Linked DNA regions of Homo sapiens: region 2 is linked to region 1. The links come from fine-mapping of genetic effects on gene expression. A gene starts in region 1. The other region holds a variant in brackets. All regions are shown on one strand. Distances are from middle to middle.

Region 1 (3,012 bases):
TGGGATCATGCACTCCAGCTGTTGCACTCCAGCCTGGGTGACAGAGGGAGACTCCATCTCAAAAAAAACAACAACAACAACAAAAAAACCACGCACCACCACTGGGAATTAAGAGGGCTAAAAGGAGAGAGACCTGGTCCTCCCTTCAGGGAGCTATGAGTCTAGTGGAAACAACTGAACAATACAATGGCTACAAGCCAAGAAAGACATGACAAGCGCCTGGGGGAAAGCTAGAGGTCTTCCAAGCCTCTATCCTGCCACAGATGAAACAAGCATCTCACACGAGATTAAAAACTTTCACCCAGACCATCTGCCAAGTTCCCAAGATGCTCTGATCCGCCCCTAGATGTATTCCAGCTGCCCCCAAACGCCTGGTCCTCCTACAGCTTATCCCAGTCTAGACACCACGGCCCCACTTCCAACTGTCCCCATAAGTTCCATCAGAAACCTCATCAGGGGATCTGTGGCTAGCTCATGGGAAACTTTCCCAAGCAGGAAACCAATGCTTTCGCCTCCACTTCAACACCAGGGGCACGAGGGACCCCATCAGGAGCAGGAATAAAGTAAGTACATGTTTTTAAAAAGAATTAACAAAGCATCACAAGTTGCGGCTATCCTGTCTGCTAGCGAGGCCATGTTTGCCAGGGTCTCAGCCACCTCCAGGCCTCACCTGCAGAAGGCATCTCCGGCTCGTATCACCACAACGGGCTGCGCTTCCTTGCACTTCACACACTTCTGCTCACGGCTTTGGAGATGGGAGGGGGGAGAAGAGAGAAACACAGATCACATCTTCCCCACGCCTAGTGGGCTTTGGGGAGACAGCTCCTGTTTCTCACCCTGAGTTGGGTCAGAGAAAGGCACCTCGGTACACACACAAACCCAGGCTTGTGTTCTGTCCAAACTTCAAGAAAAACAAAGGCTCTGGGGGGATGTTTAGCCTAGAAAAGCCGGCTCAGGGGGCACATAAAGGCCGCTTTTCAGTCTCCCAAGGCTGACACGGGGAGGCGAGACAGCTTCACGGCACCAGTTCTCTCCGAATAAGGACAGCACTGTCAGCGGCAGAGCCGTCCCCAGTGGCTGCTAGGATGAGAGGCGCGAGCCAGTGGAGTAAGTCCCCTTCTAGGTGGCCGTCACCGCTTGACAGGCATTCCCCGAGTGCTAGGGAGCGAGGTCCCGCTCTCCACGCGGGGCTTCCCGGAGCAAGCCCGGCCGGGACCCTTCGGGGCAGGAGTGCGGCGGGAAGGCGAGGGGCGGCCTGGCGGGTCCGGCCGCCAGCTCTTACCTGGGCCGCGGCGCCGGGGGCGGCTCCTCAGGCGCCGGCTCCCCGTAGTCCTCGCCCACCTGACACATGGGCACGCCGGGTCCCGTCGCAGACTGTGGCGGCGACAGCGCGAGGGCGCGCCCCGATGACGTCGGAGTGGCGCCGTGACGGCCGCGAAGCCCGGCTGGGGGCGGCGCCCTACGATGACGTCAGCGCGGCGCAGTAGCGGCTGTGACTAGCGGGCCGGCCCGGGCCAGGACAGCGGGCGGCGGGCGGCGCGGGCCTGGCCCCGGGATGGCTATGTTCCGCAGCCTGGTGGCCTCGGCTCAGCAGCGGCAGCCGCCGGCCGGGCCGGCGGGCGGCGACAGCGGCCTGGAGGCGCAGTACACCTGCCCCATCTGCCTGGAGGTCTATCACCGGCCCGTGGCCATCGGCAGCTGCGGCCACACGTGAGCGCGCCCGCCCAGGGGCCGCGGGGAGGGGGCCGTGCCCCGCCGCGGGAGGGGTCGCGAGGCCGGCGGCCGCCCCGGTGCAGCTCCGGACTGGGCGCGCGGGGACTCGGGGCGCCGGGGCCTCGGGGCGCGTGGGGTCCGGGTTTCCCTGTGCCGCGCCGCCTCTGCCCTCTGGGCGCGTTCATCCCCCGCCCAGCCTCCTTCGCGCCAGCCGCAGGCGCCCGGTCCGACTGCTGCTTCGGTTCACCGGGCGACCTGCGGCCCTGCCCAAGCTCGGGGTCCCCGGCGGCTGCGGCGGGCGCTCCGGTACTCAGAGGGCAGCAGGTGCCACCGCTCCGCCAGTGGTGGTGGATTTGGGCTTGTGCGGCTGGAATGGGCAGTTGTAAATAAATAACTTGTAGTTTTTGCTATCAACTCTTGTTCGGACCCGCTGTCTGCCTGTTTTGACTACAGAGGAAAGGAGTTCCCTAAAGTTTAGAGGGGCTTGTTTGGAGTCTGATGTTCTTAGTTTTGTTTGAAGGAGAACTTGAGTCACACCGATCACTGAGTAGCCAGGCAGGCTGGTCCACAGAGGAGCAGACACTGACCACCTTGCTGGGGTTTCCAGCTGCACCAGGGCTCACAGCCGGCTCCTCCAGGGTGTTTCAGGAACAGAAACTGGAGGACGTGGCTCTCCTGGCGGGGAGCTGTGCTCAAGTATTCTGGAGCTGCCAGCCCCGTTGGGAGGAAGCCTAGATCAGTGTCTGCTCCCTCCTAAGTGCTGAATAATACAGCTCTTGAGCAAAATCAGCAGTGGCAGGGGAGAGAGAGAGCAGGAGGGCTTCCCCGCAGACATCCAAGCTGCTGAGGTGGTGGAGTGGAGGGGGGTGCACCCAGACTGGTAGGAGGCTCTAGAACATTTTGCAAGCAAAGTCAGCTGACTTCAGGGGCTCCTGGTACAGAGGGAGCTGGGACTGCTAGGTGGATGTGTGCTGGTCACCCACGGAGGTGGCAGGGCCAGTGTCAGGATGCAGAGCTGCCTTCATTACCTGTGTCAGGCAGCACAGGCGCCTGCCCACGCTGGGACAGCTCTACCTACTTCTCTTGTGAGGCTGCTACAGGCTCTGCCCCTGCTCCTCCATCTCACTTAGCCGTGACATTTTGGGGGGGCAGCCTCTGAACGGGAATATTTTTTTTTGAGACAGAGTCTTGCTCTTGTCACCCAGCCTGGAGTGCAGTGGCGCCATCTCGGCTCACCGCAACCTCCATCTCCTGGGTTCAAGTGATCCTCCTGCCTCAGCCTCCAGAGTAGCTGGGATT
Region 2 (2,500 bases), 22 kb before region 1:
CCCCAGCATCGAGGGTCACTTTGTTTTTGGGTCGCGAGGTTCCCTCTGTGGCAGATGGGGCTGTGGGTTCAGCATGTCCTGGGTTCCCCAGCATCGAGGGTCACTTTGTTTTTGGGTCGCGAGGTTCCCTCTGTGGCAGATGGGGCTGTGGGTTCAGAATGTCCTGGGTTCCCCAGCATCGAGGGTCACTTTGTTTTTGGGTCGCGAGGTTCCCTCTGTGGCAGATGGGGCTGTGGGTTCAGCATGTCCTGGGTTCCCCAGCATCGAGGGTCACTTTGTTTTTGGGTCACGAGGTTCCCTCTGTGGCAGATGGGGCTGTGGGTTCAGCATGTCCTGGGTTCCCCAACATCGAGGGTCACTTTGTTTTTGGGTCGCGAGGTTCCCTCTGTGGCAGATGGGGCTGTGAGTTCAGCATGTCCTGGGTTCCCCAGCATGGAGGGTCACTTTGTTTTTGTGTCGCAAGGTTCCCTCTGTGGCAGATGGGGCTGTGAGTTCAGCATGTCCTGGGTTCCCCAGCATGGAGGGTCACTTTGTTTTTGTGTCGCGAGGTTCCCTCTGTGGCAGATGGGGCTGTGAGTTCAGCATGTCCTGGGTTCCCCAGCATGGAGGGTCACTTTGTTTTTGTGTCGCGAGGTTCCCTCTGTGGCAGATGGGGCTGTGAGTTCAGAATGTCCTGGGTTCCCCAGCATCGAGGGTCACTTTGTTTTTGTGTCGCGAGGTTCCCTCTGTGGCAGATGGGGCTGTGAGATCAGCATGTCCTGGGTTCCCCAACATCGAGGGTCACTTTGTTTTTGGGTCGCGAGGTTCCCTCTGTGGCAGATGGGGCTGTGGGTTCAGCATGTCCTGGGTTCCCCAGCATCGAGGGTCACTTTGCTTTTGGGTCGCGAGGTTCCCTCTGTGGCAGATGGGGCTGTGAGTTCAGCATGTCCTGGGTTCCCCAGCATGGAGGGTCACTTTGTTTTTGTGTCGCGAGGTTCCCTCTGTGGCAGATGGGGCTGTGGGTTTCGCAGATGCGTGGAGTCACATCCATGCCCTCAGTCCTTAGGGACCGACCCTCCCTGCCTCACACGCCTCCCAGGAAGTGTGGCCGGGGGCCGGCAGTGCCACGGCTCCCTCCCCAGCAGGCCCCGGCCGCTCCCATCCCCAGCACGTGGTCCTATCAGAACGCCACGTCAGCAGGACTCCCAGCAGGTGGCCTTTAGGTCTGGCTTCTTTCACTTGGCAGAGCACACTGAGGTCTGTCTAGGCTGTCGCATGGATCCCGGTCCCACGTGCTGAGCAGCGCGTTCCCAGCTGTGGTTGCTGCAGGTTGAACTTTTCCTGGCTGCAGGCGTCCGTGCAGCTTCTGGCCGTTGTTTTCAGAGCTGTCCTATCACACGCACTGTCCTATCATGGAATATGACGCCGTGTGGGCCACAACTCAGGCCCAGCAGCCCCCAC[C/T]CCCGTGCTCTCTGGCCTCCTGCTCAGTTCCTTTGCCCCCAGGGGCTTGGTGCAGAGTTGAAGGAATCTGTGTGTGTGAACACACAGGACACTAGAGCTGTCAGTTCTCGAGACACCAGGTGTGCGCGAGGTGATTCCCATGGACCCTGAGGGCTGGTGATAGACTCGGGTCAACGGGTGGGGACCGGGTGTCTCAGGCCCCAGGCAGGCCCGGCCCTTCCTGACATGACACCCCTTCCCCCAGATTATCCCTGGCGCTGGAGCCGGGCCGTCCCCATGAACTCCGCACTCATCAAGTGGCTGTACCTGCCTGATTTCTTCCGGGCCCCCAACTCCACCAACCTCATCAGTGAGTGCCCCCCACCACCCCCGCCTCTGCAGAGGACCCTCAGAGTACATTCACGCCCCCAAATCTGCTCACAAGTGTGCACACAGGCGTGCACGGGCGGAGGTGTGGTCAGGCACATGGCGGCCTGCAGGCCCTGACCTCGCACGCACGCACGCAGACCTCAGCCTGTGTGCACGGCAGCCCTTGTGCAGATGCCCTCACACCGGGGCTCCCCCAGGGACACCCGGCCACTCACCCAGGCAGACGTGTGTCCGCTCCCAGCGGCTGCACGCCGACAGGCCTGGGGTGGGAGGTGGGATTTATGCGCCGTGCCCACCTCGTGTGGGTCCCCGTGTGGCACAGCGGCGGCTCCTGTGTCCTGCAGGCGACTTTCTCCTGCTGCTGTGCGCCTCCCAGCAGTGGCAGGTGTTCTCAGCTGAGCGCACAGAGGAGTGGCAGCGCATGGCTGGCGTCAACACCGACCGCCTGGAGCCGCTGCGGGGGGAGCCCAACCCCGTGCCCAACTTTATCCACTGCAGGTGGGTTCCACGTCACCCTCCACGGGGAACCTTCTGGGAGGGGTGGCCGGGGCGCCCGCCCTGACGCTCCGGCCTGGCAGGTCCTACCTTGACATGCTGAAGGTGGCCGTCTTCCGATACCTGTTCTGGCTGGTGCTGGTGGTGGTGTTTGTCACGGGGGCCACCCGCATCAGCATCTTCGGGCTGGGCTACC

Evidence for each region. PIP is the estimated chance that this variant, and not a neighbour inherited with it, causes the effect.
Region 2: its variant is the best candidate, but not a certain one, in a credible set for the expression of RNF166 in skin (TwinsUK, PIP 0.73).

The regions. Positions count from the first base shown.
Region 1 is chr16:88,704,869-88,707,880 of GRCh38, reverse strand. It overlaps RNF166 (ring finger protein 166), which reads left to right and starts at 1,473. Exons shown (of 6, transcript NM_178841.4): 1 at 1,473-1,710. The coding sequence starts at 1,556. It overlaps CTU2 (cytosolic thiouridylase subunit 2), which reads right to left and starts at 1,378. Exons shown (of 15, transcript NM_001012759.3): 1 at 1,283-1,378; 2 at 671-745. The coding sequence starts at 1,350. RefSeq lists silencers at 1,110-1,419, 1,460-1,739 and an enhancer at 1,361-1,998.
Region 2 is chr16:88,726,846-88,729,345 of GRCh38, reverse strand. PIEZO1 (piezo type mechanosensitive ion channel component 1 (Er blood group)) reads left to right here. Exons shown (of 51, transcript NM_001142864.4): 23 at 1,685-1,789; 24 at 2,154-2,307; 25 at 2,388-2,500. Among named protein-coding and RNA genes, the nearest start is that of HSALR1, 3.1 kb to the left of the region's middle. The variant C/T (reference allele first, on the strand shown) is at 1,441.